Homo sapiens: one gene and its partners. The protein of the gene in region 6 interacts with the protein of the main gene of each other region in a pairwise test. Each region holds a gene or a part of one and is shown on either strand. Other genes may lie near its edges.

Region 1 (4,647 bases), on a different chromosome or scaffold from region 6:
TGTACGCTTGAACATTTGGAATTTTATGTCCAGCCATAATCCACTTGCATATGCACTTTGTGGAAACTGTGGTCTTCAGAACTCTGGAAGAATGAGAATGGCGGAGTGGAAAAGAGTCCTGGATTTGAAGTAAACAGATGAGAATTCTAGGTCTGTACTTCACCTTACCATTATCTAACAATGGACCCCTGAACAAATCTCTCTGTCTAACATGAGGGGCTTGAAGTAGTTCTGTGATCCCCAGTATATTTTTATCCTATTAAACTGCTGACTTGAAAACCATTGGCTTATTGCACAGAAGTTTATTGCTTTTTATTCATTAGAATGTAAAAGTTAATGTTAATTTACATACAGTAAAATAAGCCTTTTTTGGTGTACGGTTATGAATCTTGATAAATGCTGACAATTATCAAGATTAACTGTCACTTTAACTGTGGTGGTGTCAGCATTTATCAAGATTCATAGCCCCCAAATTTCCGTCATGCCCTTTTCAGTCAACCATTCCTCAACCCCAGCTTCTAGAGTGTTTTCTGTCCCCATAGTTTTTCTTATTCAGAACGTTACGTATATAGAATCGTACACTATATTGTGTAGTGTTTTGAGTCCGGCTTCCATTTAGCGTAGAAGCAATTTAATTTTAATTAGTTTTTTTCCAATTTAGAAGATAATACATGGTCACTGAGGTAATTTTGGAACTCAGCAAAAACTAGAAGTTGCCTTGAGATGAGAGCTGTTAACATTTTAGTGTATTTCTTTGGTTTTTTTTGGTGGTTTTTCAATGTACAGGTGATCTGAATTTCCCTTTTTTCCCCTCCTCTTACCCCGTATAGGCAGAAGACACACATTTGGCCGTAAGTGTGAATTGCCATTGATGAGTTTCAAAGTCAGTTATCATGCCTTGAGGCAGTACTCTGTAGACTTTGATTAAAGTTTTTGTAGTAGAACTGAAACTTCATTTCACAAATTAATTGGAACCAGTGAAACGCTGAAGATCTGAATATTTTACCTAAAATTAGGGTAGCCTTTAAAAAATAGTATGTACACAAATGGTGGCATGCTAAATACATTGTTCTGCATTTAACAGTGGCTCTATAGTTAGAGATATTAGAAACTTGATTTGTGCATGTTCGTAGCCCTATAAATCTGCGGGGATGAGAGAGAATGGGAAGATGTTAATTAAGCATTTGTTGGTGGGCTATGCTGTTATATAAAATAACATTATAGGCTTTGTACTTTTGTACTTCTCATACCTAAAGTAGCATCTTAGGTTTTATACTACTGGACATTTAAGGTGTCTTGAAAAAGAAAGTTTTAATGAGGTAGAATGTATATTCTATAAAACAACCTTTTTTAAGTGTACAGTTGAATGACAGTGTATTTACAGAGTTGTGTAACCACCGCCACAGTCTTCCTTCAGAACGTTCCATTACCCCACAGAAACCTCCGGCTCATTTGCATCATTAAAGTGCTTTTTAACTGATGTATAAATATATATTAGTCTTTGTAATAGCATTGCAATTTGTATGGCCTTGGGCTGAGTATAATTTCATTTTATTTTTATTTTTTGAGACAGAATCTTGCTCTTTTGCCCGGGTGGGAGCACAGTGGTGGGAGCGCAGTGGTGCGATCTCGGCTCACTGCAACCTCCACCTCCCAGGTTCAAGTGATTCTCCTGCCTCAGCCTCCCAGGTAGCTGGGACAACAGGCATGTGCTAACATGGCCGGCTAATTTTTGTATTTTTAGTAGAGACGGGGTTTTACTGTGTAGGCCAGGCTGGCCTCGAACTCCTGACGTCAAATGATCGCCCTCCTCGGCCTCCCAAAGTGCTGGGATTACAGGTGTGAGCCACCACGCCCGACCATGAGTATAATTTTAAATAGAAGTTGGAAGTAAGTCACTCAGTTTCTGGCTCATAGGAAAGTTTCCATGATGTTCGAAGGGAACCTGTAAGCTCTGAGATTTCAGTCACTTTCTGCAGAAGGTAGAGTTACATTTTTTTGTTTTCTTGAGACGGAGTCTTGCTCTGTCACCAGGCTGGAGTGCAGTGGTGCAATCTTGGCTGGCTGCAACCTCTGACTCAGTGGTTCAAGCGATTCTCCTGCCTCAGCCTCCTGAGTAGCTGGTATTTCAGGGACGCACCACCACGCCCAGCTAATTTTTTGTATTTTTAGTAGAGACGGAGTTTCACCATGTTGGCCAGGATGTTCTCGATCTCCAGGATGGCCTCCATCTGTCCGCCTCGGCGTCCCAAGGTGCTGGGAATACAGGCGTGAGCCACCGCGCCTGGCCAGAGTTAATTACTTTTAGAGCTGTCTGCTTCCACCGTGTAACTGTCTACAAAACAAATCTCAAAGTACTATATTTCTATAATTCCCTGTTTAGCTTGATTTAATATTAAGTGGAATTTGAGCGTAATCTAAATTATGCATAGATATATTAATAATGATGACCAATAGAATTATAGTAAAAAGTTGCGTTCAGAGGGTATGCTGACTTTTCAAGGTTAGTACAGAATCTTGTTAGTTGGTTTCATTGTGGAGATTTGTAATTGAAAAAACGATAATTGTCTTAATATTAGGCCACCCTGTTAATTTAAAAATACATAGTTCCAGATAATTTAAAATGGTTGTTTTGCATATTTAAAAAGATAATTTTCATTAAAATGCTAAGTAATGAAGATTTAACTGGATGTCAAAATAAATGATCACAACAGCTTTTATTTTCATTCACAGATAGTTGCAAAACGTGGAGGGGAAGGAAGGCTGGGATTTTCTACTCTATCTTGCTGATGGTGATCACAGTTATTAAAAAGTCAACTTAGGCCGGGCGCCGTGGCTCATGCCTGTAATCCCAGCACTTTGTGGGGCTGAGGTGCGTGGATCACGAGGTCAGGAGTTCGAGACCAGCCTGGCCAACATAGAGAAACCCCGTCTCTACTAAAAATACAAAAATTAGCCAGGTGTGGTGGCACGCGCCTGTAGTCCCAGCTACTTGGGAAGCTGAGGTGGGAGAATCGCTTGAACCGGGGAGGCAGAGGTTGCAGTGAGCCGAGATCATGCCATTGCACTCCAGCCTGGGTGACAGAGTGAGACTCTGTCTCCAAAAAAAAAAAAAAAAAAAAAAGTCAATTTAAATGCATATATTTCTTGTAAAGTTTTGTGTTTTGTATTAGAAGAGCAACACATAATTACGAAAAATATGAAAGCAGAAAAGCACATCTTACCTATCTAGAGAGATACTGTCAAGGCCCTGGCTTTAAATACTTCCAGAAAACATTATTTTTCCGTATTTTTACTTTTATGTACCTGTTATTTTCTATGTCAGATATTTGTGTGCCTTCTGTAAGATAATAGTTTAAGATGAGAGCCTGTTCTTTACTAGATTATGTATTAAGCTTCTATATGTATTTCCTGATTTTCTTTTCCCAAGAACTCTGTGAGGTTGGTTTTATTTTTTTAATTTTTATTTTTTAGTAGAGATGGGGTCTTGCTATTTAGATCAGGCTGGTCTCAAACTCCTGGTCTCAAGCAATACTCCCATCTGGGCCTCCCAGAGTGCTGGGATTACAGGCATGAACCACTGAGTCTGGCCAGCATTAGGGATTTTTCAAAGTAACTTTTAGGATAGTGAGCTTACATTTTCATTAGGAGGAAAAGGGCAGATACTTTGCTGGATTATCACTCTGGATAAGTTCTCTATCACAGTGTTTAAGGTTGTCAAATTAGCTTTTTTGTAGTGGGAAGAGCAATATGCATTCATTCCATGATTGACCCCTAATTCTTGTAATAGTTTTTAACTGGCAGGATCATCCAGGTAAACACCTTGGTTTTTTCATATGCAGTATGAAGCAGTTGTATTTCCTTTAACCTATTTATAAGTTGTGAAATCTTTGCTAGTTTCTGTTGATGGCAGTCCCATCTACCTCTAGCAACTGTAACTAATTTTCATTGAGTACCCAGACTACTTACCAGACTTTGTAGGTGCCTTACTCGAATTTCCCATTTAATCCTTTCAACCACAGTGAAGTAGATAACTCCACTATTTGAGAATACTGAGGCTAAGTGAATCCAGGTCTGTAAAGTTAGATGCTGATTCAAGATTCAGACTCTAAAGTTTGACACCACAGAACCAATTTCTTTAACCATTATGGTGCAATATTTTTTGAAGTACAAATGTTTTGCCACATTATTACTAATTTTGAATTGTTACTAATATGAGGAGAATTATGAGGAATAAATTGGGAGGTTCCCAGAGAAATGATTTGAGCTATGCCTTTGCTTTAGACAAATCTGCTTTCTAATATAGTAGCCACCAGCCATGGAGCTGAAATGTACTAGTCTGAATTGAGACATGCTTTAAATGTAAAATACAAATTGGGTTTCAAAGCCTTAGAATTAAAAAAAAATGTGAAACACCTAAATTTTATTTTTTTTTTATTTTTGTTTTTTTTTTTTTTGAGCCAGAGTCTTGCTCTGTTGCCCAGGCTGGAGTGCAGTGGCACTATCTCGGGTCATTGCAACTTCCGCCTCCTGGGTTCACGTGATTCTCATGCCTGAGCCACCCGAGTAGCTGGGATTATAGCTGTGTGCCTCCACGCCCAGGCAATTTTTGTATTTTTAGTAGAGACAGGGTTTCACCATGTTGGC
Region 2 (4,647 bases), on a different chromosome or scaffold from region 6:
AAGATGGATTTCTAGCCCCTTCCTTGCCCCAATTTGTTATCCAACATGCATTTGTTTTTCTACTGTGCAAAATTTGGTGCAATGTTCAAGTTCAACTAGAAAGTGAGATCAAAGACCTGGCCGAAATTTACAATGGACAGAATGTCATTGACTTTGGCGGATTTTTGCTAACTAAATCATTTAGACAGCCAGTAGCAAAGCTGAGAGGGATGAGGGTGAGATGAATGAGGCACTCATTTCAGGAACCAAATTTAAAGGTGTGTCCAGAAACGTAGTAATCAAGATGAATAAGACCTTACTACAATATTTTAAGAATGAGTGCCAAAAATTCATGATCACTAAATGTTCATATGACTGATTTTTTTCTTTTGCCTCAGACTCCAATATGGCTCAATACTGTTACTGATCCTGCATTTAAAAATTTGAAATTTTGTTGTTCATAGACTTTTGGCGTTCATTTTGATTTTTGAAAATATTTCATTCAAACATTATCTGAATTTTTGAGTACACCCTTAAATTCTGCATCTGAGATGAGTGCTTCCAAGCCTCACCATCATCTCAGTCCTGGCTAGGAGAATTCTGCGTAGTGATTTAGCCCTGTGTAGGTAGAGAGATGTCTGAGTTCTATATTTACAGTAGCCACACAAAGGAGTTATATGAATACACCCACAGAGTCACCCAACTCTACACAGTTTTAGGGGTTTGTAACATAAAACTCCAATGGAACTGAAGGAGTTCTAGAAAGTATTTAATTTTACCCCCTCCCTTTTATAGATGAAAAAACAAACCTAGTCCCACAGAGCCTTGAGTAATATTGTGGTAAACCGATTAAGACTAATTGCTGGGGGGGGAGGGGGTTTGGCCTAGGACACTGGGTCTTTTCCATAGGGCAGACCCATGATTGGAGACCATTTGCTTTAGAGAACTTGAAAGTCCCGTAGGTCTAGCTCCTTCCCAAGGCTTTGGGCTCTTTATTTTAAAAAGTGATAATGTACCACCTTCTCCCATTATGTATGCACTTTGGAACTTAGTACTAAGTTTGCCAGTGGGAAAATATCTCAAATGGGAAGACCAGAAGGCAATGCCCACTGCGCAACAGAGGTGGGATTCCGATGCAGTTTTACTCTGCTGTGCCTGAGTGGTAACTAGACCTTTCCATTAGCAAATGCACATGGTTGAGAATACATTTCACGCTCTCAAGCAACTTCACCTCCGAGGAGGTGACCGTGCCCCTCATTCCTCATATAAGCACAGATAGTTTTCACTGTCCAATTCCTACTGATCTCTCTCTCCCTCTGTTATTTATTAAAATGTGCAATAGAACAAGAAAAGGAAAAGATTATCCTGCGTCCTGCCATGCAAGATGGTACGTGGGAGGCCAAGGTTAAATGCAGCATTTGGTTTCTTAAGCTTCTCTAATGTATAGGTGTGGAAAAGCAATCTGGGACCAGAGCTTATAGCAGTGACTCTCTGAGGATAAAAACTTGACTTTAATTTGGACTCTCTGGCTAAGATAAAATCTGCTTCTGCTATCATTATCCCACTTATGTTTGTCCTCCACTCTCTTTTCACTCTGCCACCCAGCTGAGTGGGAAGAAATTAACCTGACCTTGAAGAATACTCAGAGAATCTTCAGGACCATCAAGTTTTCAATAGCCAATAAAATTCCAGAGGCCTACTAACATTGAGATTATAGATTCATAGGCCTGAAAAAGACCTCAGACCACACGGATGAGGGAAATGAAGTCCAGAGAGCTAAAGTGACCTATCCAAAGTTATGAGTTAGTTGGAGGCAGGGTCAGAACTAGAAGGGGGACTCAAGCCCTCCGGTTACCCTCTTCCACCTACACCATGACTGGGCTCCAACCATGCCCAGCATATCTCCAGACCACTCAAGAGGGAATATGTGCACAATAGGGCTTTTATAAGATGTCTGAAATTTTACCAGTGCAAATAAAAACTCCCAAGGAGTTTTCTTTTCAAGAAAATTCTTCTTAAAGGTCATAGAAAGGAGGCTTTTATTTCACCATTCTTATGCTTATGGGGTCTCTATCCAGATTAAAATTACGTATTGAATTTTTTTTTTTTTTTTACCTAGATCATGTTTTTTGCCCCAAAAGATTGCTTCCATTTATGTTTCTGCTTCTATCAAACACAGTCTATATTTTTAGTTTTAGATTCAGGCACAGCCTGTGGACTGTGGGTTTGAGCAAAAATAAGGAGTATGGACTGCTCTCCATCCTGGCACCCAAGGACTAAATTCAGCTCACAGTGCATCTTGTTTGTCCCACACACTGTTTTTATAAATTTGATTTTGGGTTCTACAACCAAGATTACTTTACTTATTTACAGGGACTGCTAGGCCCTGAAGACCTCTGCCCTTGCATTTCCTGTCTAGAACTTCTCTCCTCAAGCCTCCTGGGCAAGAACGAAGCCATGGGTGGGTGGGTCCTGAGTCTCAATGGAGAATCTATAGACAGATCTCCAGGGGCAGCTTCTAGAGTCTGCTTTAGACCACCAGACCTCCTATAATGCTGAGTGATCAAAATTAATAAACAAAGTGATCCCCCTACCTGTGCGTCTCTGAAAGGATAATACTTTAGACTCCTATCTATCTTAAAACAACTTGGTTTTGTAAATGTAATCCTTTTCACAGAATTCAGTAAAAGAGTAAAATAAAATTACACTGCAATATTGCAGAAAAGCCTGATACGAGGTATTTGGATAATTTTTGTTTAGAGTGTTACTACCTACCAACACTATTAATTTTTTTTCATCTCAGGAAATGACCTCACCCAAATATAACACACAACCTACTTACATTTATTTTTTTCTAAAGATATGGGAGCATCTGCACAGTTTTAGAAATAATTGTTGTCCTCCAAAGTTTTGTTTTTAAAGCAAAAAACCTAATTGACTGGCTTTCCCTGGTAATCTACATTGCATAGTTCTAAACTAATATCTCTCCAGCAGATTTTTGAATAATGTAAAAAGATAAAGCCCACATGAAAATAAAGGGTTGTAAAATAAAATTTAGGCTATCATACATGAATTTAGTTGATCTTTATTCCCTTAATAATCTTCAAACAAAAACACTTTATAAAGATCATTAGTTTGGAGAGTTAAATATCTTTGCAATTCCTTTTAAACAGTTTTCTTTTTAAAAAGTTCAAACATTCCATGTTCCACAAACTCAAAAAGCCTGCAGCTAGTGTAAAAATTTTTTTTAAACCAAAATATTCTCTATTTCCTTTATACATGCCTGTAGTAAAGGAAAAAAGTCCTTTTATGCCTACCGACACAGATTTGTTTAACATCTTCTCAGTAATGTTTTAAAAAAAATTTGTAGCAAGTCACTCATTTGGTGGTCATCTGTTAGATCCACAGAAGTTAGAGTAACAGCTCCTCTATATTTAAATGTACTCTAAACATATTTATTAAGTTTATAAGTTAAAACTTCAAAAATGAAAAATTAGAATATTCTCTCAGTGTTACAAAGAAAGAAATGTAGCTCTGAGCCTTCATTTGTTGCAAAACCAAAACAAAACAAACAGCCCTGGGATTTCCACGAGAAACTGTTAGGAGAACTTTCGGAAATTCCCCTAAGTTTATTTTCATGAGGCTGCGTGGTCACTTCATCTAAAGTCCTGTCAACAGTCATTCAACAGGGCTTGTCTTCACTGGGATCTCACTGGCCAACAGAAATTTATAAAACACTGACAGTGTTCAGGGAAGGCTGAGGTCCACAGAGCTCAAAACTTTCACCTAACAGGAAGGAATACTGGACTATATCGGACAACTGGGGACACACCTAAGTAATTTCACTCCTCAAGGAAGGGCAATATTTTTCTTTGGTAATTTTACCTATTTTGGTGCCTGGAATAGAGAAATTAGATGGTATATAGGTACATCTAATGTAAGTGTTCTTAAAAAGCATTAAATTAATTTTTTGGAATAATAAAGTTGAATCCCAAATGCTGCCAACATTAAGGTTGCTGTAATCATGCCTTCTGTAAATTTGATGACACCTGCTCTTTCAGTAGGTGTCAAGTGGACAATGAAGACGTTTTTGGACCATGTTCATTTTAGTCCTAGGTCAAAGGTGTTACGTTGTCTCACCATCGTAAGAATTGTATAAATACATCTTGAAACTCCACTCATGAAAATGTTCAAATTGAAAGTAGCCCTGGCCCAAGAGCCCAGAAAAACACAATGACTCATCTCTCCCAAATGTGTTCATTTCTAGGAATGCTTTGGGCCACACCACTGAGAATCCAAATTGGAAGAGACAAAGCTATGGGACAACAAACTAAGTTCTAAAATACCAAGTCTCTAATCCACCTGCCTTTCTGTCCGTGTACCAACCTGTCTTTATTTTGTATACTTTTCTATTTAGGAGCCAAGGATACCATCGCTACTGTCATTCTCAGGCTGGGGAGAGCCGGACTGACTGAGGTTTATACCCACCACTATGGCAAGGGGATGAGATGGCACTTGAAACAGGTCCACAGGCTGCTCACTCTGTTTAACTTTGTCACAGTACTACAAATACACGAGATTGTCTGAAATCTCACAGGGAAAAATGTCATTGTGCAAGTCAAAGAATGGATGGCTTGGCTGAGTTATTAATTTCTGGATCTGATATGA
Region 3 (3,841 bases), on a different chromosome or scaffold from region 6:
TGATATTTTATTTATTCAGGCAGGTTAGATCTGATCCCTGTACTCCATCTTGGCCTGAAGGTTTTTGTGTGATAAAAACAGCATATTTTTATGTTAATTAGAGAATTTCAGAAGACAGGAAAAACTGAAATGTGGGAAAGGTGAGGACTATTGGAGTATGTCTTTCCGAGGTGTGAGAAGACAGCTTGGATCCAGTGGAGAGGTTAGCCTTAGGCAGAAGCAGACAGTTGATCTAAAGTTCAGAGGAAAGAAGGAAGCCGTATATAGACATATAGACACACTTTTTTTTCCTAAATATGTATTTGTTGTGAATAATGGTGTGATATAGATGGGGAGAGGTATATAGATAGAACATTTATATAGGTGTATAGAGAATAAAAAATGTTACTGGGATGTTATTAGGATTATGGATTCGCATGACTTTTTGGGTGATTTTTATTTCTAAACTTTTCCTATTATATTACCTTCATAAGAAAATATGTAAAGAAATATTTTAAGAATTTAGATAAACTAGATGGAGATTTTGTTTTGCTCAGCTGTTCTCAGCACCTTGTCACATTACTCATTTGCTTAAAACCTCTAATGGTCTCTCATTACAAAGAAAAAGTTATAGTTCTATCAATGGCTAACCAGGTCCTCCATGATCCAGCTTCTCCCTGCCACCCTCACCACATTTGTCTTTGGCCTCACCTAATTCCCCCCATGTTCATTCTGCTCTAGCCGTACGGGCCTCTTTGGTTTCTTGCACAAATGAGGCATTGCTCTTACATCAGCTTGCTTTGCAGTTGGTGTTTTCATGCCTGGAACACTCTCCAGTCTCATGGCTTGCTTCCTTATACTATCTTTTCTCCAATGTCACTTTCTCAGTGAAAACCTTCCCTGGCCAGCCTATCTAAATTGCACTATCTTTCCTTCTTGACATTTTGTATCCCTTTCCTATTTTCTCCCTAACCACTTCTCATCATATGACATACAATATGCTTTCTTAAAAAACTGTTTCTCATTTACTTTTGGTTTTCCACTGCCACGTGTAGTTTTTCACACACGCAAGCAACAGATGTAAATCCCATAACAGTGCCTGACCCAGAGTAGGCATTTAAATGTGTTGAATAAAAGCTTGCAAAATGTTTTCCTCAATTTTGAAAGACATCTCTTTGAAAACTCCATCTTAGGAGATGTGATTAATAGAGGTGCCAGGTGACATAGAGCGCTGCTACATTTCTGGCCATAGAAAAGAGCCCACAGGGTGAGGCTGCTCAGGTCTGTGTGTGCTCATTCACGTCTTGAGTCCACAGGCCTGAGAATGAAACAAAGAGCCAGAGAACCATGGAGTTGGGATGGAGGTCATTGGAAGGGCTCCAAGGGTTGTATACAGGGAATGCTTGAGGGGAATCCCCCAAGAACAATGGTAGGAGATGGGTACAGCTCTCAGCAGTGTAACCCTTAAAGTCCCAGGTTAATGAGTCTAGAGGAAGAATAAGAAGAGAACTGCCAAAGAGGCAATTGTGTAAAAAGCTGTTCATCCACATTCCCAACATCAATGTTGTTACTATTGGAATGTAAAGTGTATGTGTGTGGGGTGTGTGTTATAGGGAGAATGGAGTAACAAATGGCAAAAGTTGACACAGGCCAAATCATGGAAGGCCATGCTAATTTTATTAACTTATATAGTGCATAAAGTCTAGAATTTAAAATTACAAAGGTTTTCTACAAATCAATAAGAAAATACAAATAACCTATATTAATCAGAACAGAAACTCAATTCAATTATCTTAAACAAGAAAGGGACTTTATTGGCTCACAAAACTTTAAAGTCCGGAGGTAGGGCAGGCTTTAGGCACAGCTGGATCTAGGGCCTCCAGAAAAATGACATCAGAACTTAGTTCTCTTTCCATTTCTGCTAGCATCCGAGTTTCTCCTCAGACAGACTCTCTCCACATGGCACAAATTCAGGCTTACATGGTCCTTGGTTCCTGGGATCTCCATAAAGCCTTCTTTCCAGTAGTTCCAGCAGAAGTTCTGTTAAGGGCTTTCCTTAGCCTGGCTTAAGTTATATACCCATTCTTTTATCACTGTGGCTAGGAAGCTGTGGGACTCAGGAGGCCAGGCCTGGTCACATGCTCACCTAAGCCACAGGGAATAGGTTCCCCACAAATAAATAAAGGTTGTGTTACCAGAAGATGGGGAAGGAGATGCTGAACAAATAAAAACAATATATCCACACATAACCCAATAGAAAGCAGGTAAGGGATACAAACAATCCACAGTAAACTATAAATGGCCAATAAACATGAAAATAACCCCAATCTCACCATTTTTTTTTATAATCAGGGAAATGCAAAATAAGAAAAGGTTCTTTTTCGCCCAACAGATAAAAACTATCAAGTGTAGGTATGGTTATATGGGGAAATGAACATTCTCCATACACTTGGTGAAAATACAGTTATGAAGGCCTTTGGGAAGACTGAAGGTGGACAGAGAACAAACCCTTTGATCCAAAAATCCACCTTACTGGACTCCAGACTAAAGAAATATTCACACACATGCACAAAGACATCTGAATAGGATGTTTACTTTGGCAATGTAATAGCGAGAGGAAAAAAATTAAGGGAATAAATAATGGCATTTTCATAGTATTTAATCATATTCAACCATTAAAGAAATTTAAAGACCTGTTATCTTTTTTTGAGACCAAAATTTTAAAAAGCTACAGAATATGAGATCCTATTTATGTAAAAAGTGTTTTTATGTGTATGTATATTCGTACGGAAAGGTGACTAGAGGATGTATGTTAAACTGTGGTAAGTGGAATGTGATTGGTAGCATTGGAGAAAAGGGTCTCTCTATTCAAAGAACTGTGTTTTTTATACAATGAGAAGGTAGTCATTAGACTTTCATAATTAAAAAAAGGAAAATGGGCAAAAGCAATTCATAATAGGAAATGCAAATGGCCAAGAAACATGAAAAGATGTTCCTCCTCATTAATATTCAAAGAAAAGAAAGAAATTTTGCCTACCAGATTGGCAAAAATTTTTAAGGATTCAGGGTTGGCAGACTATAGGCAAACAGGCATTCTTACTAATGATGGAGTTGTAAATTGGTGAAATCTTTTTGGTAGTAGTTTTCAAAACTGCAAATGTGAAACCTGATCCAATAAATTTCTAGTTATTCATCCTACAGAAATACCCACACAAGTAGCAAAATACATGTACAGGAATGTTAATTACACTTCTATCTATAATGAACCTAATTATCAATCCATAGGGGATTAAATAAATTACAGAATATTCATGCAATGGAATAGTATATAGTTATGAAAAAAGAACATCTTCAATGTGGGGGGAGAGGAGGCAAGTCTCAGTGTAGTGCATGTGAAATGGGGTTATGTCCTACTTTATACGGTAGCTGAGGATTAAGAGTTAATCCATGATAAAGCACTTCAAATAGTGCCTGTCACAGCAACCACAGGTGTCAGCTGTTAACACATTATTGATTAAATAAGTATATGCCTAAATCTGGAAGAACAAACGAAATTATCATGACTTCTCGGTAACACTGTGAAAGGAAATATCCTTTTTCATTTTACATTTCTGCACTGTAAAAAATTCAAACCAGCAATGTTTAATAGCTTTCACATTTGTTAACCATAAACACAAATTTATCAAGGTTTAATAGCCACCACCCATGGCATGGTGAATATGTCCCTGGAGTCTACAGAACCAGATTTGAATTTTATCTCTAGGCCACATGCAAGTCACATGATCTCTGAATCTTGCTTTCCTAGTCCACAAATCTAAGTGAGATAGGTACGGTGTCTAAGCCAATGCCTAGCATGCAGATT
Region 4 (4,243 bases), on a different chromosome or scaffold from region 6:
GGGAGAAAGGGACAGGGTCCCAGGGAGCAAGGGGTGGGGTTTGCCGGGGAAGAAAGGGACAGGGTTCCTGGGAGCAAGGGGTGGGGTTTGCCGGGGGAAGAAAGGGACAGGGTTCCTGGGAGAAAGGGAGGGGCTGGGGGAGAACCACAGGTTTTCCACTCCTAGCTCCTCTTGGAGGAGACCCACACCTGACTTCACAGGAGACGGCTCCCTTGTTCACAGGGAGTGCTCTGGGGGCCAACACCGCCCTGCAGAGCTCAGCCCAATGGGTGGCAGACACTCACCACTGTCACAGTCATGGTGGCTGGCGTGTCCCCAGCCAGGCACAGCAGTAAGGGCCTTCTGGGAAGTGGCTTTTTCAGCAGGAGGGAAACCCCCACTATTTCCTTTATTCAGAGCTTCAGCGCCCACATGGGGTGGGGCTGAGGTTCAGTGCAGGGTGCTGTGGCTGTCTGCACCTCCCAGGTGGGATCAGACACTGCGAGGCAGGTTAGAAAGCCTGTGGTCTGTCCACACAGTGACCCAGAGAGCTAACAGGACCACTGAGCACGCGTCCCTCCCTGCAGCTCCCTGGTCCTCCAGCCACGGTGCCATCAGCCTGGGCCCCCACCCAGGATCACTGACGACCACTCCAATCTCACCCCTTTCCCCGCCAGGCTTCCCGGTGCCTCCCAGGCACTCACTTGATGGAAGCCTGTGCACTGTTCATGACCACCCGGAGGTTCTGCAGGGCCACGTCGGCGTTCTGCTTCACCACGGTCAGGCTGGCACCCTGGCCGCACCGCAGGGCTTCATTCTCTCGCTGGAAGTTGGAGACCTGCGCCTGGGGGGACGGTTACGGCTAAGGACAGAGCAGCTCCGAGGCAACCCGGCTGAAAGTCACCACCTGGCGAGGCGAGGGCTTACCCGTGGGGGCCTGGCACTCAAGATGCATGCTCTGGCCTAACTGGGGGCTCGCCTCTGGGACTGGGGGCCTAATGGCTTCCCCTTCACTCCAGTATATGCTCAGCACCTAGCTCTATGGCAATAGGGACTCCTACAAGTGGATGCCCCGTGCCAGACCCCAAACTCCCAACAGAGCTCCAGGGCCTCCCTCTGCTTCACGCCCTGACAGGAAGCGGCTGCTGTCCTCATTTGAAGTCCTTTCTCTGCTTGGGCTCAGGGGAAACCCCAGCAGAGTCTTTCGCCTCTTTCTTACTGAATTCATTATGTGACTCCACAAATCAAAGAAAAACACTGAAGTCCCTTCCTTTAATTACCTGGAGCAAACTGATTTCCTGTTTTAGTTTCACGACGTGGTTTTCTGCCTTTACAGCCCGTTTCTGTTACCCAAAAAAGAAAAACCACAAAAAGCATCACTGATGTCCTCACATTCATACCGGACACGGGCCCCAACCCAGGGAGCAGGAGGGCACCCAACCTGGCTGTGGCCCTTCACAGCCCCTGTGCCCCTCCCAGTCCCGCCTCCACTCTCAGACCACCCCTGGGAAGGGCTCATCGTGCAGTGTCTGTGCTCTGGCCCCCCACTCCCCACGGATGCCCTCGTGGGCCAGCTATCCCCAGGCACAGCGAGACAGCGACGTCAAAGAACACCAGTCCCAGAGAGCCACATGGCCCCGCTCCCAAGGGCAGGCTGCACCGGCTGCTGAGGACAACAGCACTTTCTCAGGAGCGCTCCTGCCCCACCCAGCTCGTCCGATTCAGAGAAGAAACCCATACGGTCATCAGCTCCAGGTTCTGCTCCACCTGCTGAACCACCGACTCCAGGTCGTGGTAGTCGCTTTCCTCCTTGATCATTTTTGCTTCTAACTTCCGCTCAAGCGTCCTCACCCTTGTTAAAGAAAAACCCGAGTTGTTAATTTCTGTGGCTACTTTTAAGAGGACTACAAAAAGATACCTCATGAGCCAGATAAAACCCGCTAAGAGCCTGTGATGGAATGGGTCTCAGGCACAGAGGGGAGGCAGCGGCAGCCTCAGGCCTGGACCTGTAGCCACCAGGCAGGCGTGCAGGGAGCGGCTCTCACAGCACTGCTGCTCCAACAAGGTGTTTGGTGGCTTTTTGCCTAAAGTTTAAAATAAACCTTGGCCAGGCGCCGTGGCTCATGCCTATAATCCCAACACTTTAGGAGCCTGAGGCAGGAGGATTCCTTGAGCCGAGGAGTTTGAGACAAGCCTGGGCAACATAGTGAGACCCTGTCTCTACAAAAATAAGATTTAAAAATTAGCCAGGTGCAGTGGCAAACGCCTGTGGTCCCAGCTACTCAGGAGGCTGAGATGGGAGGATTGCTGGAGCCAAGGAGGTCAAGGCTGCAGTGAGCCGTGATTGCGCCACTGCACCCGAGCCTGGGTGACACGGCAAGACTGTCTCAAAATAAACTTTTAGGCAGAACACAGAAATGTGTTTGATGCTGAACATTTATATACAATAAAACCCAGATCTGGTTTGACTCTGATTACTTCATTATCATTTAAAAACGGATTTCCCTGTGTATTAGATGTTGTGGATTGCATTCCTAACTAAAAGCTTACATACATTTCTGTTTGAGCTTCAGAGAAGCTCTGAACCTCATTCAGCTTTCTTCTCAGCTTAGAATTTTCATCTTTCAGCTGTGGAGAGAGAACATCCTTATTAGAAAGTCAGCATGTCTGGCTCAAAAGGGCGTGTGCTTCTGCGGTGTGGCTCCAGAGCCTCCTGATAAGCAGAGATGCTGGGTCAGTGCAGCATCCACCTGCAGCCACTACAGAGGGAGACCACAGACGGAGGCAGGCACTTTTCAAAGACCTGTGGTCACAGATGCCAGTTAATTTTACTCAGAGGCCGGGGGCAGTGGCTCGCGCCTGTAATCCCAGCACTTTGGGAGGCCGAGGTGGGCGGATCACAAGGTCAGGAGTTTGAGACCAGCCTGGCCAACACGGTGAAACCCCCGTCTCTACTAAAAATACAAAAATTAGCCAGCAGTGGTGGCGGGCACCTGTAGTCCTAACTACTCGGGTGGCTGAAGCAGGAGAATCACTTGAACTCGGGAGGCGGAGGTTGCAGTGAGCCGAGATCGTGCCACTCCACTCCAGCATGAGCAACAGAGTGAGACACTGTCTCAGGAAGAAAATAATTTTTCTTTTTTTTGAAACAGAGTTTCGCCCGTCGCCTAGGCTGGAGTACAGTGGCGTGACCTCGGCTCACCGCAACCTCCGCCTCCCGGGTTCAAGCGATTCTCCTGCCTCAGCCTCCCAAGTAGCTGGGACTACAGGCGCCTGCCGCCACGCCCAGCTAATTTTTGTATTTTCAGTAGAGACAGGGTTTCACCATGTTGGCCAGGCTGGTCTCAAACTGCTGACCTCAGGTGATCCACCCACCTCGGCCTCCCAAAGTGCTGAGATTACAGGCGTGAGCCACGGCGCCCAGCTAAAAAATTTTTTTTTTTATTCAGAGCTTATAACCTTTTAGGTGATTATAATTTTTTAAAAATTTTCCTCCTCTTGGAATACTTAGCAAGCTGGCGACTGCAGCCTGCCTTTACTGAGGGTACAGCCCTGTAAGTGCCCAACTGCATCCAATTCACAGCTTCTAGCTCACCAGTCCTCTTTAGCCGGTTCTATTCCCACGTGTAACCAGAAGCAAAGTCAAAGGGAAAGTGGATAGCAGGCTGTCACGCAAATCGCCTTGTCCTGGAAATCAAACCAGGCCACCCAAGAGGTAGGATGGCTCCAGGTTCTCCCCGGGAGAAGCCGCTCGGACAGGCGCTGTGCCAGAGGGCGCCGTGAGGCTCACTTACTGCGTCGTAACTTATCTGCAGCGTCCGCAGGTGCCTGTCTCCCAGAGACTCTCCATGAACCGCAAAGTCTGCGCTAGGACTCCCTGCCGGAGAGGCCGGAGACACGCGAGAATCAGTGTCACTCAACGCCCACGAGGGCAGAGACTCAGGCCCTGCCAGCTCCGACGGGGTGGAGAAAAAGGAAAGGTATGTGCTGCAGGGCGACGTGCCGGCAGGGACCCTCTCGGGGTGAGTCTGCTCGATGGCGGACGGCAGGTAGGCCCCACTCCATCCGGTGTCCTCATCCTCCTCCTCATCCAGGAGGTCACCAGCCCCTGTCGGATCCTCGAAAAATGGCTGCTGATACTCCAGGCCATACCCGCCGGTTTGGGAGGGTGGGGAGTTGTGGTCAAGTCCCAGGGAATGCCTCGAGGCTTCCTAAAAAAAAAAAAAAAAAAAAAACAATGGAGGCCATGCTTCTGACTCGGAGC
Region 5 (4,647 bases), on a different chromosome or scaffold from region 6:
TCAGGAAACTATGAAGATTCTGAGGGAGTCCTTTCCTAAACATTCTGATTATAAACCCTTAAATTTAGCCAAAGTCTACTTGATAATCATATAAACACAAGACTCTAAATTTCAACTATATCAAAAGCACAGTTCAGTACAGAGACTAGAACTAGGTTACCCTTAAATGAACTTTTTTCATTTTCAAAGGCCTTCCCATAACCATCAAACAATAATTTGCTTTGAAGATCCATCATACAAAGTTTACCCAAGGGATGTAATTTAAAAGGAAACTTACTTTCCATTTTAATTTTTATAATTTAAAAAAGGAGGGTCTTCCTTTTCATAAAGAATATTTGGTTCTCTTTTAAAGCCCTACTCTGCCATTTTAGTACTAATGTCAATTACAACCAAGTTCAATTGGTAGCGTTATTATGCTATCTATTGTATAAGAAAGGAAACCGGTACTGAGAGGATTTAACATGGCATTCATAACACAGCTTGATCTCTGTCAGGTCTGAAGACTGAAAAAAAGCAAGTTCTTTCATTCTAAATTAATTTCCCATCTTAGACTGCTAGGGTAGCAGTCAGAAGAGAAAAGTATTATTAATATAAGCTAGAAGTTGAAAGATATTTCAGAATAACAGTTTTTTTGGGAAAAAAGCTGATCAGTTTCAAATAGAAATGCTTAAGAGAACACATACATGTCTAATCACAAATGGAGGTTTATCTGTTTCTTTTTTGAACTCATAGGGTCCCAGATTTAAATGGGCCAGCCGCCGCCTGGTGTCTTCAGATAGCTCACACATGCGTCTTTTTGTGTAGGGAGATGGAGAGTGTGATTTTGAAGAAATTGTAGGCTGTTCGTAGTTTTTTGCATTTATACAGTATTTACTTCTCTCAGGTGACTTGGATTTTTTCTTTTGTGATCTTGATGTTCTGTTTTGCAGTCTGCCATGTGATTTTTCAACTGGAGCCAAATGGTAAATAAATTTATCCTAAACATAAAAAATAAAAATTAACTTGGTCAAAGGGGATTTTTAAAATTCCTGTTGGTGGGGAAAAAATTAAAAAGTAATTTAAATAAGACGCAAAATCTATCAAAGCCAACTAGATCAGTCCTTCCTATCTGTGCTGATCCTGGGATAAGTCAAATCCACATTCTCCTAGATAACTCTTTCTGCAGTAGTTATTAAAGTACACTGTCTCAAACTTCCTTAAGTCCAACAAGGACTTTATAAAAATTAAAGCCCGATACTTAATCACTTGAAAAATTAAAGAAACAAAGTCAAAAAAATTATTTTTCAGTATACTAAAAAAGTGCAAACATTGGTTACATATATATTTAAATATTCGTGTAATTGGCTATATAAGAGAACTATGTTTAGTAATGTTAAAAATACATGCCAGATTAGTTGATTACAAAATCTTTAAAGATAAAACTATAAAAATAAGTTTCATCCCTTCTGCTATAATTATATATATATCTGTACAACACAAAAATATAAAGAACTCTATACATATTTTAATGAAATGTGTTATTTGGATTGTAATACACACTTTTAAGCTCCCTTCCGAGCTGTAACTTCACAATGACAGATAAACATACCATCTTAATTCTGGTCCCATATTTTTATAAAATTAGGAATATAAAAAGCATTATAAACTTAGTAACATTTTATCTAATAAAACTGGTTAGCAGTCTAAAAGTTTTGAGGCTAAAATTTAATAATTCTAACTTTTTTATTATTAGAATAACATCTTATTCAAATAATCTCTGCCTTATAAAGGCCTTAATAGTTGGATTACAAGCAAGTAATATAATATTTCTTCCTACTTTATCCAGAGTTATAAGAAGCTTTTCAATTCAAGAAAATGGACTGCGGAGAATTTTTAAATGTCTTCCTAACTTTAATCACTTTTAAAAGCCACCAATCCTACCTCCAGCTCTATTTCCTCAACACCTCTCTTGACTTGCTAAGGGTAACTAAGTGAATAAAATACAAATGTGAATAGGATGAAGAAGAGTCAAATTTTTTAAGTGGATACACAGAAAAGAAAATTAATTTTCCTAATTGGAAAAGTGAGTTTCAGCTAGGGCAATGGTCTATGCATTTCATACAGACCAGTTGCATCAGATTACTCCATCTTTCCTTCTTCTGTAGTTCATGGTATGCTTCTGGACCTTCTCCACCTTGTTCAATGATTTCAAAAAGTAATTCAGAATTTTTCTACCATATCCATTTCACCCATCTCTGTGACATCACAGACTTACAGAAGCAAAGAATGTCAGCACTAGAAATGATCTTTGAGTTTACTAAAACATTCAAGCAATGAATCTTTCTAAGACCTTGGAATCATGAGTTTCTGTCTTTCAGTTTTAATTATCTAATTCTACTCCATCTTGGATTTAATAAATATGCAGATCCCTTGCATTCCAATTCTGAAAATCCCTTGCTGACCAAAACCTCTTTTCCTCAACCTACTTCTTGACTCACTGAATCTGTTACTTGCCCTTCTCATCTCCTCAGTCCCTAGAACTCTTCCCCCAAGTTCTTTACACATTTTTAATATCTCTTACCTCCAGACCCAACTAAACTCATAATCATCCATTTCAGCAATGCTGTAAAGTTCTTTCTTATATATATACCTCTGATTATATCAAACCTTAATTAACCTCATCTTTATTAAAGCTTTTAATACTGCATACTACTAGAGAAAGTTATAAATTACATACTATCTACTACAAATGCATGCTGTCTAACCCTACTTATTCCTTAATGGATCCTGTTCATGCCTAGTAAAACTTTTAAAAAGTGACTGTGTTATACCATTTATAAAATGGACTGACCATGTGACTTGCTTTGGACAACAGGAAAATAGCACATGCAGCACAAGGAGAGACACTTCAAAAGTGCTTATCCTCTCTTATTCCTAAAACCTTCCTGCCATCACATGAATGAGCTGGAATTCTTAGCCTGATAGATGATGGGACTATCTCATCCCAGCTGAAATGAAGCTCATCACTAGAAATTTAAGATCCTTCCCTGGGCAAAACATCTGCCACTGTTCAACATGTGAGTAAAGCCATCCTAAACCATTCATCCCTAGCCAACCATTCTAGACTAAAGAAATCAACCAGCAGATCCACAGAACTGTGAGAAACACTTGCTGTTTTAAGTCACTAAGTTAATGAGGTCTGTAATACAACCAAAGCTATGTGATACAGCAGATTAACAAATTTATATTCATAAAGTTACTACTGATATTTAACTATTTAATAATGAATTCCACTTTGCAATAGGTAAAAACATTTTAATAATGTTACATGCTAGGCATATTGCATATATTCCCTAATCTTTACAGCAGCCTTATGAGGAACTCGAACCCAGATCTGTCTGTTTCTAGAAAGAATATTTAAAGAAAATGTATTTCCTTAAATACTGACACCAATGCCTTTTCTCTCATATCTCTGTTCAATAAAGATCCCAAGTCAAAAAGTAAAAATAAAAATAAAAATAAAATGGAAGACTCTTGTTAAAAGTTTACAGAGGGAAATGTTAGTTCATAAGTACAATTAAACTATGAATGGGTAATGGTTTTACATTTAGAAATGGCTTTCACCAAGCTGTACCCTGAGAATGTATGTACTTTTCTATGTGTATGCTATATTTCAGACAAAAAGTTAAAAAGAAAAAAAAGACTTCTCTATCCATCTATTGGAAGAACATACTCCAGCGTGAAGAAAAAAAAACTGTCTGAGTCCAGGCAAAGCATATCTAACCATTTACAATGTGCACAGTGCACATCTCTAAAACAAGTCAATAACATAGCTCTGCATTTGGCAAGCATAGGTTTTTAGAGCTCTAAAAGCTGTGTTTCAGCTTGCATCTAAAAGATAAATAACTACAGCCTGACTCTGAATTATTAAATATCTTTCTAAATAAAATAAGAATGTTCCCCTCAATAATTCTATATTTTACCTTTCTTGGCTTAAGTCACAGTTATCATCTTCAGCAAATTTACTTGAATACTGATAATGCAGTAAATGAACAATCCACTCCTTCCACGATAAGCCCAGTCCTGCCCTTTGAGCCCTCTGGGCTTTACATATTATTGGCTCTTCATCACAGATAGGTCACTGTTACCCTATCACAATGCAACTGCACATGAATGATATCTGGACATTATTAGATAACCTGTGGACAAAGAAGTAAGCCACCCTGGTGACTCAGTAATAAGTCAGACTAGGCCAGGCAGATAAGTGCACACCTGTAATCCCAGAATTTTGGGAGGCTGAGGTGGGCAGATTGCTTGAGCTCCAGAGTTCGAGACCAGCCTGGGCAACATGGCAAATTCTATCTCAAAAAAATACAAAAGTTAGCCGCGTATTGTGGCATGTACCTGTAGTCTCAACTACTAAGGGGACTGATGCAGAAGGATTGCTTGAGCCCAAGAGGTCAAAGCTGCATGCCACTGCACTCTACCCTGGGCAACAGAGTGAGGCCCTGTCTCAAAAATATATTTAAAAAAAGGAAAAACAAGAAGTCAGACAAATGGAGTATTAGATCCAGATATCTCAGCTTACTAAAAGCTGTTTTCAAAAACATAGATGATCCTTAGGCTGGAATGTCCAAGATTCTCTTGATCTGGCAGTACCAGTATGGC
Region 6 (4,098 bases):
CAAGATTTATTCTTCCAGTCCATGAACCATGGCATCTCCATTTATCTAGGTCTGATTTTTCTGTCAGTTTATTTTGTAGCTCCAGCATATAGGTATTGCAGTTGTTTGCCCCTTGGTATCCATGGGGGTTGGTTCCAGGATTCCACCCTCCCTTGCAAATACCCAAACCCTCAGATGCTCAAGTCCCTTATATAAAATGATGTAGTGTTTGCGTATAATCTCTGGACATCATCTTGCACACTTTGTCATTTCCAGATTACTCGTATCTAGTGCAATAAGTGCTACGTAGATAGTTGTTATACTGTAGTTCAGAGAACAAGAAAAATCTGTACATACTCAGTACAGACCCAACCATTGTAGGCCTAACACTTTTGGTCTGCAGTTGACTAAATGTGCAGACGTAAAACCCAGATACAGGGGACTGACTCTATTTTCTTAGTTATACTTAAGCATTTCTTTGGGTAGAGAGGTAGTGAGAGTGATGTGCTCAACTTTAAGTGTCTGCTTTTCCCAACTTTTATTTCCCAATCTTTTATTTCATCAGTGGTTTGTAGTTCTCAGCATATGAATTCCATTCATACTGTTAAGATGTAGTATGCCTTGGTTTTGGGGGTATGTTCAGCTTTACATTTGAGAACAATTGTAGGAGGTGGTAATTACTGATGTATTTGGACATATTATGGACCACATCTCCCCTCTTCCCAACCGATTATCTTGGTTCTCCATTTAGGCTGTGAAATCTGACAGCATGGTGGAACAGTATCTACAACAGATGAAGGGGCTCTGAATTCAACTGGGCTTCACAGGAATGATGGGTTGAGAAATGTCTGTTTCACAGTATGAATTACCTGAGCAAAATGCTCAGATTCCTATGCACACAGCTGCTACTAAGGACATACCACACACACATTTGGAGTTCCAGTGGGCTTTTATTGAGATAAATTAACAAAAACCAAGATTTTACCATATTTTTGGAACCTTATAAACTCAGCAGACTCCGGTCCATATATGCGTACATACAACATAACACATCCCAACAAAAACAGAGCCCCCCCCCCCCCCACTGGAACATCTGCCAATTAAGAGAAAGCCAATTTTCCCTTCCCCCAATGTTTCTGAAATTTTGAGTTCCCACTGTTCACTTCTCAGTGGAACTGGTCCCTTGTGGCTAGGGACATTGGAATTCTCTACCATTTTTACTGAACAAAAAATAATTTTTTTTCCTGTTTCAAAAAAGGGAATAGTGACTTTGTTTTCTCCAGGCTCCCCTTCCCACACAACCAATGTAAAATACAGCAGCCTGTATCTTAATAACCCAGCCCTACCCCCTCCCTTACCCAGCATTGTCTACTGGAGAATTTAAATACACTTCTGTTGGAATCTGTCAGCTGTGGATGGGCAGAGTCCAGGTGCCAGGCTAGCTCCCTCTGACCTCATGAACTGTGACAACCTTTGGACACTTAACTCTTTACCCCAAAGATGAGTTTTTAGATCAGAAAGGAGAGCAGATTTTCTTTGGGAGTTTTAAAAAACTATCTTTAGATTTAGAGATACAAAGTACAACTACAATCTCACAGAAGTCCACTAAAGTTCACCAAAAAGCTGACTTACTTCAGCTCTCATGAGGCCAATAATTTTGATAAAGGTATCTGGCAGGAAAATGATTCCACAATAACAAATTTAAAGATACCTAGAACATTGAAAAAAATAGCAAATTAAAATAAATGGCTTAATTTCCAAGAACTTATTTCATTTTTTTGTTACTCATCTAGAAGGTCAGGAGTGTGGCTAAAGGCAGTTTCTGATGAGGTTATGAGCTTCCAAAGTGTTTCTAAATCCTTAGTGCAGACACCCTCCCTTCTGGGGCAAAGTACCCTCCCTCCCACCCCTATTAAAAAAAAAAATTAAAAAATTAAACCACGTCATCAGAATGAGATGTTTTGATTCCAACAATTTATACTCAAGGCTTTGTGCTGAGTTGTCGTTTGAACCAAGCATGATGTTATCAAGCACAAAGCACGTGGCAAAGGAAAGATGCTCCCATCTCATTCTGAAAACAAATACTGATAACCAAGCCCACCCTCCAACCCTTTGGGGCCAACCCATTTTATGCTGCTGGGACCAACTTCAAACAATTTAGAGGTATATTTAGGTTTCCCTCTCTCTTACTTCTGTGAAAGATCATTTTAGAATAAATGTATTCCATTCCTATGGGAGAGGCAAAACAGTATTTATCCCCATCAGAATATATGGGGAAAGAAAAAACATAGGCCTAGAGGTGGTAAGGTGTGTAACAGTCCATAGCCCATTACACAACTGTACAACCAAAGGCTAAATGATGAGTTGGATGTAGTTTTAATATTAAAAATAGAGGGTAGTTCTCATCCAAATGAGCCACTGGAAAATATTATCATTACTTAAAAAAATACATATTTAATATTGGAAAGAATGTGAAAACAACTTCCAATAGTAACAATGCTTATTATGAGGGCCCAAAAAAGAAAGAAAAAAAAAAAAAAAAAAAAAAAGACCAGGCTTTGACCTAGTCCTCAGAGCATCTTTCCATTTAACAATTCCTATTCAAGAGTCAAGCACCAAAACTGGACAGCTGCCTCTACAAGACCGTGTCCAGTAGTGGTGTCCCAGATAGTTTAAGTGCCACTCCTCATTAGAGGCTATACTTCAGTAATACTTTCCATTTTAAGTCTGTGCTTTAAGAGGGACCCACAGGCATGTGGCACCACGCAGTCTAAAGTTGGTGAAGGAGACTGCACTTTTTGTTTAGTCACCCACACGTTCTCTAGCGAGATACAGAATTGCATTTATACTCTTTTCTTCTACATGAATGATCCCTCTTATCTCGCAAGAGGTGGGGGAGAAAGAGAGCTGCATCGGTACAAGGGCACAATTTTTTTGGTCAAAAGTTGACACCTTTTAAATTCCCTCTCCCACCCCTCCCTGGAAAAAAGTTACTTCCTTAATTAGGTTTTCTATTTAGTAACCAACATTGACTGGACAGAAAATATGAGGCTTGGGTTCCAAATAGATGAGCTTGTTCTTTTTTGGGTTTGTACCGTGCAGTTCTTGCTACAGTTGTTAAGGAGTTAGGGCTATGTCCCATCAGGAGGCATCTGTAGGATTTTGATCTCCAAGGAATTGTGGGTGAGTCGCAAATAGTTTGCTCAGAAGTAGGCAGAGTCAAAAAAGCAACTTCAAGTAATTGATTCCTTTGTCCAAAAGAGTTAAAACATTAAAGTATATGCGGGACTTATTTTGTAATATTTTAGGGTTTTGAAAAATAAAATATGGAAATCAATTTTTTTTAATTTTGTTTTTTGCTTTTTTCCCCCCCTTTCCAGATGCCTCCTGATTGACCTAGTACACTGGGTTAAAAGGGAATTAAAAACATTAAAAAAAAAAGTTCACTGGTTTTGATTCATCTCACTCCTTTTGCCTGGAGATCAGGCCAAACATCAAGCATGTTGGGAGGGGCACAATTTAAAGCAACACTATTGACTGTAAAGCATCTGCCAGCAATTTACAGTGCAAAATGACAGGTAACAATTCTTGTCACAATGCAAGAGAATGGCAAGCAGCTTTCTGTAGCATGAAAGTTAACAGCTCTCAGGTTGCCCATTCCTGCAAAAGTTTATGTATCAAAGCGGGCAGAGGGCAACACATTTACACACTACAGGAAATGATCCACAGAAAATTAAGCTCCAGAACTGCTAACATTACCAAAGCTGGTACTGGCTAATATTCTGAAATGCAAATCTGTGCTTTATATATATACTGCTCAATGACACTGCCACTCAATAGAATTCCTACACTGCAAGGTAGATTAATCTTTGCCCCCTGTTGCAGAGCTTGAAATATTCCTCAAACTTTTAGAAAGGGGGAAGAAGCAAAATCAGAGCTTCTCAAAATAAATGTTGAATTATCAATGTTTTGAAGCTTCCTTGCTCTCTCTGGTAAACCTACTCCAAAGGTACTAGATGAGACAGTGTGGCAGCAAACAGTACATCCCAGATTTCTGGGCCCCTTTACTAACACAGGGTACCATAGAAATCTGCTCTCTACAGCACGAGGCCAAAGTAC
Region 7 (4,647 bases), on a different chromosome or scaffold from region 6:
GAGAAACCCCGTCTCTACTAAAAATACAAAATTAGCCAGGCATGGTGCTGCATGCCTGTAATCCCAGCTACTAGGGAGGCTGAGGCAGGAGAATTGCTTGAACCTGGGAGGCAAGACTCCGTCTCAAAAAAACAAAAAAGAAAAGAAAGCTGGGAACATTTGAAAGGGGAGTAGCCAAAGGTCATACCCACATTAAAAAAAAAAGCAGTTTTTGTTCAGTAGTGAGAATAATGGCCTGAAAAAGCAGTGAGAAACAGGAGACACCGCTTTCTCTACTGTAAGTGCCTTTAACATGGAAGAATGAGCAACTTACATTTTTAAAGGAGAATCAGATATTAGGGCAATAGATTCCATTCACTGGGCTACTGGACTTAACTATACATAAGAACGATCTGAGTAGCTTTTTGGGAAAAAGTCCTGGATCTCACCTCCGTATCCTTTTTTTTTTTTTGAGATGGAGTCTCACTCTGTCAACCAGACTAGAGTGCAGTGGTGTGATCTTGGCTCACTGTAACCTCTGCCTCCCAGGTTCAAGCAATTCTCCTGCCTCAGCCTCCCGAGTAGCTGGGATTACAGGTGCCTGCCACCACACCTGGCTATTCTTTTGTATTTTGGTTTCACCATGTTGGCAAGGCTGGTCTCTAACTCTTGACCTCAGGTGATCTGCACACCTTGGCCTCCCAAAGTGCTGGGATAACAGGCGTGAGCCACTGCACCCAGCTTCTCACCCCAGTATTCTTGTTCAGTGTATCTAGGATGTAATTTTAAAAACTCCTTCAGCTGACTGACATACAACCCAATTTGGGAATTCCTTAGTAAAAGAAAAGAGGTAAAAACAGTTTTCAGCTGGGTGCGGTGGCTCACACCTGTAATCCCAGCACTTTGGGAGGCTGAGGCGGGCGGATCACTAGGTTAGGAGATCCAGACCATCCTAACACGGTGAAACCCCGTATCTACTGAAAATACAGGTGTGGTGGTGCATGCCTGTAGTCCCCACTACGGGAGGCTGAGGCAGGAGAATCGCTTGAACCCAGGAGGCGGAGGTTGCCGTGAGTGGAGATCGGGCCGCTGCACTCCAGCCTGGGCAACAGTGAGACTGTGTCTCAAAACACAACAAAGAACAGTTTTCAATGTGAAGGGGAAATCGTTTTCTGTTATTTAATAGGAATTGCAGTAATACAGAGGCTGGGAAGAAAAACTGTCAGTGAGATAATAATCCTTAGAAGAGGAGGCAGAAGTGGGAGACAGTGAGAACATGAGGATGTGAAAAGCATAAATTATTAATTGGCTTGAAGCTTCTGAACAATGGAACTTTCCTCCTAAGTTATATCCTGCTGGATCTCTCTGAAATACTCATGGGTAGTTGGAACCTGACTTTTTAATATTTTATATTATCTACTTTCCTGCGTGTAGCATTGTTTTAAAATGTTCTATCTCTTTAAAATATATTTAAACAGCTTTATTGAAGAAGGTCAGTTTTAAGCAACATTTCCATATCTGGTATTTGTTATGCATTATACTAGGTGCTAGAGAAAAGTCAGATGCTTTTCTTGGCTTAAAGAGCATAGTCCAATATAGGGGTATAGGCATAATATCTGCCTACAGATGTCTGTAATGTGCATCAGTCATTAACATGACAGTCCAAAAACTTCAAATTGTACCCCATTATTTAATCAAAGTAGAAAAAGTCTACCAAACTGTCATGACCTATACATTTTACTGTCCAGAGACTTGGGGGAGATTTCTATTTTGGTGTCTAATTCTTTGTAATCTGTTATACTATGGGAATTTGTCTTCTTTTATCTAAAACCAGGTGGTCATGGGATATAATCTCCTTCTCCTTACCCTTACCTCTCATCCCCCCAATTGTGCACATCGTACACATTGTCATCTGTTTTTTTCTAGGGCTCAGGATGGGGTTGAGGCTTGCTTCTGAATTCTAAGTACTAATGAGGCCACCACTCAATCACTGTGCTAATGTACAACTGTCTGGTTCCTTCTTTCTTTTTTTTTTTTTTTTTTTTTTGAGACGGAGTCTCGCTCTGTCGCCCAGGCCGGACTGCGGACTGCAGTGGCGCAATCTCGGCTCACTGCAAGCTCCGCTTCCCGGGTTCACGCCATTCTCCTGCCTCAGCCTCCCGAGTAGCTGGGACTACAGGCGCCCGCCACCGCGCCCGGCTAATTTTTTGTATTTTTAGTAGAGACGGGGTTTCACCTTGTTAGCCAGGATGGTCTCGATCTCCTGACCTCATGATCCACCCGCCTCGGCCTCCCAAAGTGCTGGGATTACAGGCGTGAGCCACCGCGCCCGGCCCTGGTTCCTTCTTTCTGCTTCTTATCATGAACCTGAACTCCTAAGAGATAGGTCCATAGACAAGTATTCATATAATGTTAACCAGTTCATTTTTTCATTTAAGTATAGCTAAGTTTGTGCATATATATATCATTTTCTACGCCTCTTTTGCAGGTAGTAGCCATGGTTATGTGGGTTCCAGTAGTAGAATATCAAGAAGAACACATTTATGCTCCGCTGCTACCAGTAGTTTACTAGACATTGATCCATTAATTTTAATACATTTGTTGGACCTTAAGGACCGGAGCAGTATAGAAAATTTGTGGGGCTTACAGCCTCGCCCACCTGCTTCACTTCTGCAGCCCACAGGTAAAATAATAACAATGATAATTTCCTTTTTTTCTGTGGTTCTCTAAAAGAACTCTTGGATTTTCATTTAAGTATTTCAGCTATGTGTGGAACATGGTGTATTTCTGTGTTTTTCATTGTATACCATAAAAATGACATTTATGTCAACCAAATTAGTTTTTAAATTACCGTTCAAAGGTGATTTGTGCAAAAACAAAGTAAAAATGCCTGCAAGAAGGTTTTTTGTGACTTGCTACTCAGATTTTGCCTGACAGTTTGATCCATATGAAATACGGTTATCTTCTTTATGAATGGACTTTTTTTGGTCAGGCTTCATGAATTCCCTTACTTCCAAGTGGAACTATATCTAAATTGAACGTAGAAAAAGGTGACTTACTCATTCTTTGATGTTCAGTAGCTTAAAAATGTATGCCAGTTGGCAGCACTGTTTTCTGTGCAAAGGTTATTTGTTAAATAGAAATTACATTTGTGTTACTATAATAAAATGGAGATTTGTATAGTCAAATATGGGCTTTTTTAAACTCTCGGGGATAGAGTCATTTTGGACAACTAAGTATTTGCCTTTAAAAGCTACATTTTAAAAACCATTTTTGTTGGAATGCTTTCTAAAGTATAGTCAGTATATTCAAAAATATATGCCAAATATTTTTCTACCTTCTTAAACAATAGTATTATATACATCAAATCAATGATTTAGAACTCTGATTTTGATGTAGTTTTAAGGCAAGATAACTCATTTTTCAATCAAAGTCCAAGGCAGAACCTCTGTGTAAATAACAGAGAAATAGAGCTCTTCTACTGGTGTAGGGACATGGAGCCCAGATTATTTAGGCTTCTTCTTTCCTAAGAGCCAGATATACTTCCTGAAAGTCTGGATCCTCAGCTTAAAAGACTATCTTCAGGTTATGAAACAGTTGCCTTTTATGTGTGCGCCAAGTATGCTTTATATAAAGTTTTACTTAAATGTTAAGTGTTGTTTGCAAAGGCCCAGTGAAACAGACAGGTTCTGATTCTGTAGGTAGATATGTAAGTTGGTTTAACCTTTTTGAAGGACAATTTTGTAGTAGTTTAAAAATATCTATATCCTTTAAACTTGTAATTTCACTTTGAGGAGTATATTCCAAAGAGAAAACAAGCAGATGTTTAAAAATATTCAACAATACAGTTATAGCTGAATAAATTACAGTGTAACCATGCAATGGTATATTTTATAGACAAGTAAAATCGTGTTTTTGAAAATAATCAGTATCATTGGGAAAAATGCAAACTAAATAGTAAGATTTCTGTGTAAAACTAGTTTTCTGTGTAAAAACAATACAAATGAGATGATCTGAATTTCAAATTTAGGTGATAAAATGCTGGCAATAATGAGGGCGGGGAAAATAGTAGAAAGAAAAAGCAAGTTTTGGATTTAAACATCTTGAGTTGGGCATAACAGTGTGACATCAAATTAGAAAGGACCAGTAGACAGCTAAAAATTAAGAACTGGGGCTGGGCGCAGTGGCTCACGCCTGTAATCTCAACACTTGGGGAGGCTGAGGCGGGTGGATCACCTGAGGTCAGGAGTTCGAGACCAGCCTAGCCAACATGGTGAAACCCTGTCTCTACTAAAAATACAAAAAATTAGCCGGCCATTGTGGCAGGTGCCTGTAATCCCAGCTACCTGGGAAGCTGAGGCAGGAGAATGGCTTAAACCTGGGAGTCGGAGGTTGCAGTGAGCCGAGATCGTGCCATTGCACTCCAGCCTGGGCAACGAGTGAAACTCCATGAAAAAAAAAAATGAACTGGAATACAGACAGTTATTTTTCTGGAGGTGATACTGGATAATTAAAACCAAGGGTGTGAGATTGCAAAGGAGTTTTAAGAATATTTTAAAAGAAGAGAGCCAGGAACATAATCCTGATGAATATCTGTTTTTACTGAGTGTCAGGAAGATGAGCCAGATAAAGAGCTTTTAGAAAGGAGAAAAAATACTCATGGAAGCC

Evidence for each region.
Region 1: the proteins of DDX6 (region 6) and FXR1 interact in binary tests that used the Homo sapiens proteins (3 or more experiments, as listed by UniProt).
Region 2: the proteins of DDX6 (region 6) and POU6F2 interact in binary tests that used the Homo sapiens proteins (3 or more experiments, as listed by UniProt).
Region 3: the proteins of DDX6 (region 6) and ZNF24 interact in binary tests that used the Homo sapiens proteins (3 or more experiments, as listed by UniProt).
Region 4: the proteins of DDX6 (region 6) and ENTR1 interact in binary tests that used the Homo sapiens proteins (3 or more experiments, as listed by UniProt).
Region 5: the proteins of DDX6 (region 6) and SPATA6 interact in binary tests that used the Homo sapiens proteins (3 or more experiments, as listed by UniProt).
Region 7: the proteins of DDX6 (region 6) and TRIM37 interact in binary tests that used the Homo sapiens proteins (3 or more experiments, as listed by UniProt).

The regions. Positions count from the first base shown.
Region 1 is NC_000003.12:180,914,846-180,919,492, forward strand, and holds part of FXR1 (RNA-binding protein FXR1), read left to right. Parts: exon of another isoform or gene 1-150; intron 151-4,647. UniProt on the Homo sapiens protein: mRNA-binding protein that acts as a regulator of mRNAs translation and/or stability, and which is required for various processes, such as neurogenesis, muscle development and spermatogenesis.
Region 2 is NC_000007.14:39,340,856-39,345,502, reverse strand, and holds part of POU6F2 (POU domain, class 6, transcription factor 2), read right to left. Parts: intron 1-4,647. UniProt on the Homo sapiens protein: Probable transcription factor likely to be involved in early steps in the differentiation of amacrine and ganglion cells. Recognizes and binds to the DNA sequence 5'-ATGCAAAT-3'. Isoform 1 does not bind DNA.
Region 3 is NC_000018.10:35,330,593-35,334,433, forward strand, and holds the end of ZNF24 (zinc finger protein 24), read right to left. Parts: 3' UTR 1,635-3,841; downstream 1-1,634. UniProt on the Homo sapiens protein: Transcription factor required for myelination of differentiated oligodendrocytes. Required for the conversion of oligodendrocytes from the premyelinating to the myelinating state.
Region 4 is NC_000009.12:136,403,372-136,407,614, forward strand, and holds part of ENTR1 (endosome-associated-trafficking regulator 1), read right to left. Parts: intron 4,191-4,243; coding exon 3,774-4,190; exon of another isoform or gene 3,575-3,773; intron 2,608-3,574; coding exon 2,534-2,607; exon of another isoform or gene 2,398-2,533; intron 1,832-2,397; coding exon 1,720-1,831; intron 1,323-1,719; coding exon 1,260-1,322; intron 824-1,259; coding exon 684-823; intron 1-683. UniProt on the Homo sapiens protein: Endosome-associated protein that plays a role in membrane receptor sorting, cytokinesis and ciliogenesis. Involved in the endosome-to-plasma membrane trafficking and recycling of SNX27-retromer-dependent cargo proteins, such as GLUT1.
Region 5 is NC_000001.11:48,398,668-48,403,314, forward strand, and holds part of SPATA6 (spermatogenesis-associated protein 6 isoform 1 precursor), read right to left. Parts: intron 4,072-4,647; exon of another isoform or gene 3,963-4,071; intron 978-3,962; coding exon 684-977; intron 1-683. UniProt on the Homo sapiens protein: Required for formation of the sperm connecting piece during spermiogenesis. Sperm connecting piece is essential for linking the developing flagellum to the head during late spermiogenesis.
Region 6 is NC_000011.10:118,746,854-118,750,951, forward strand, and holds the end of DDX6 (probable ATP-dependent RNA helicase DDX6), read right to left. Parts: 3' UTR 910-4,098; downstream 1-909.
Region 7 is NC_000017.11:59,029,911-59,034,557, reverse strand, and holds part of TRIM37 (E3 ubiquitin-protein ligase TRIM37), read left to right. Parts: intron 1-2,467; coding exon 2,468-2,662; intron 2,663-4,647. UniProt on the Homo sapiens protein: E3 ubiquitin-protein ligase required to prevent centriole reduplication. Probably acts by ubiquitinating positive regulators of centriole reduplication.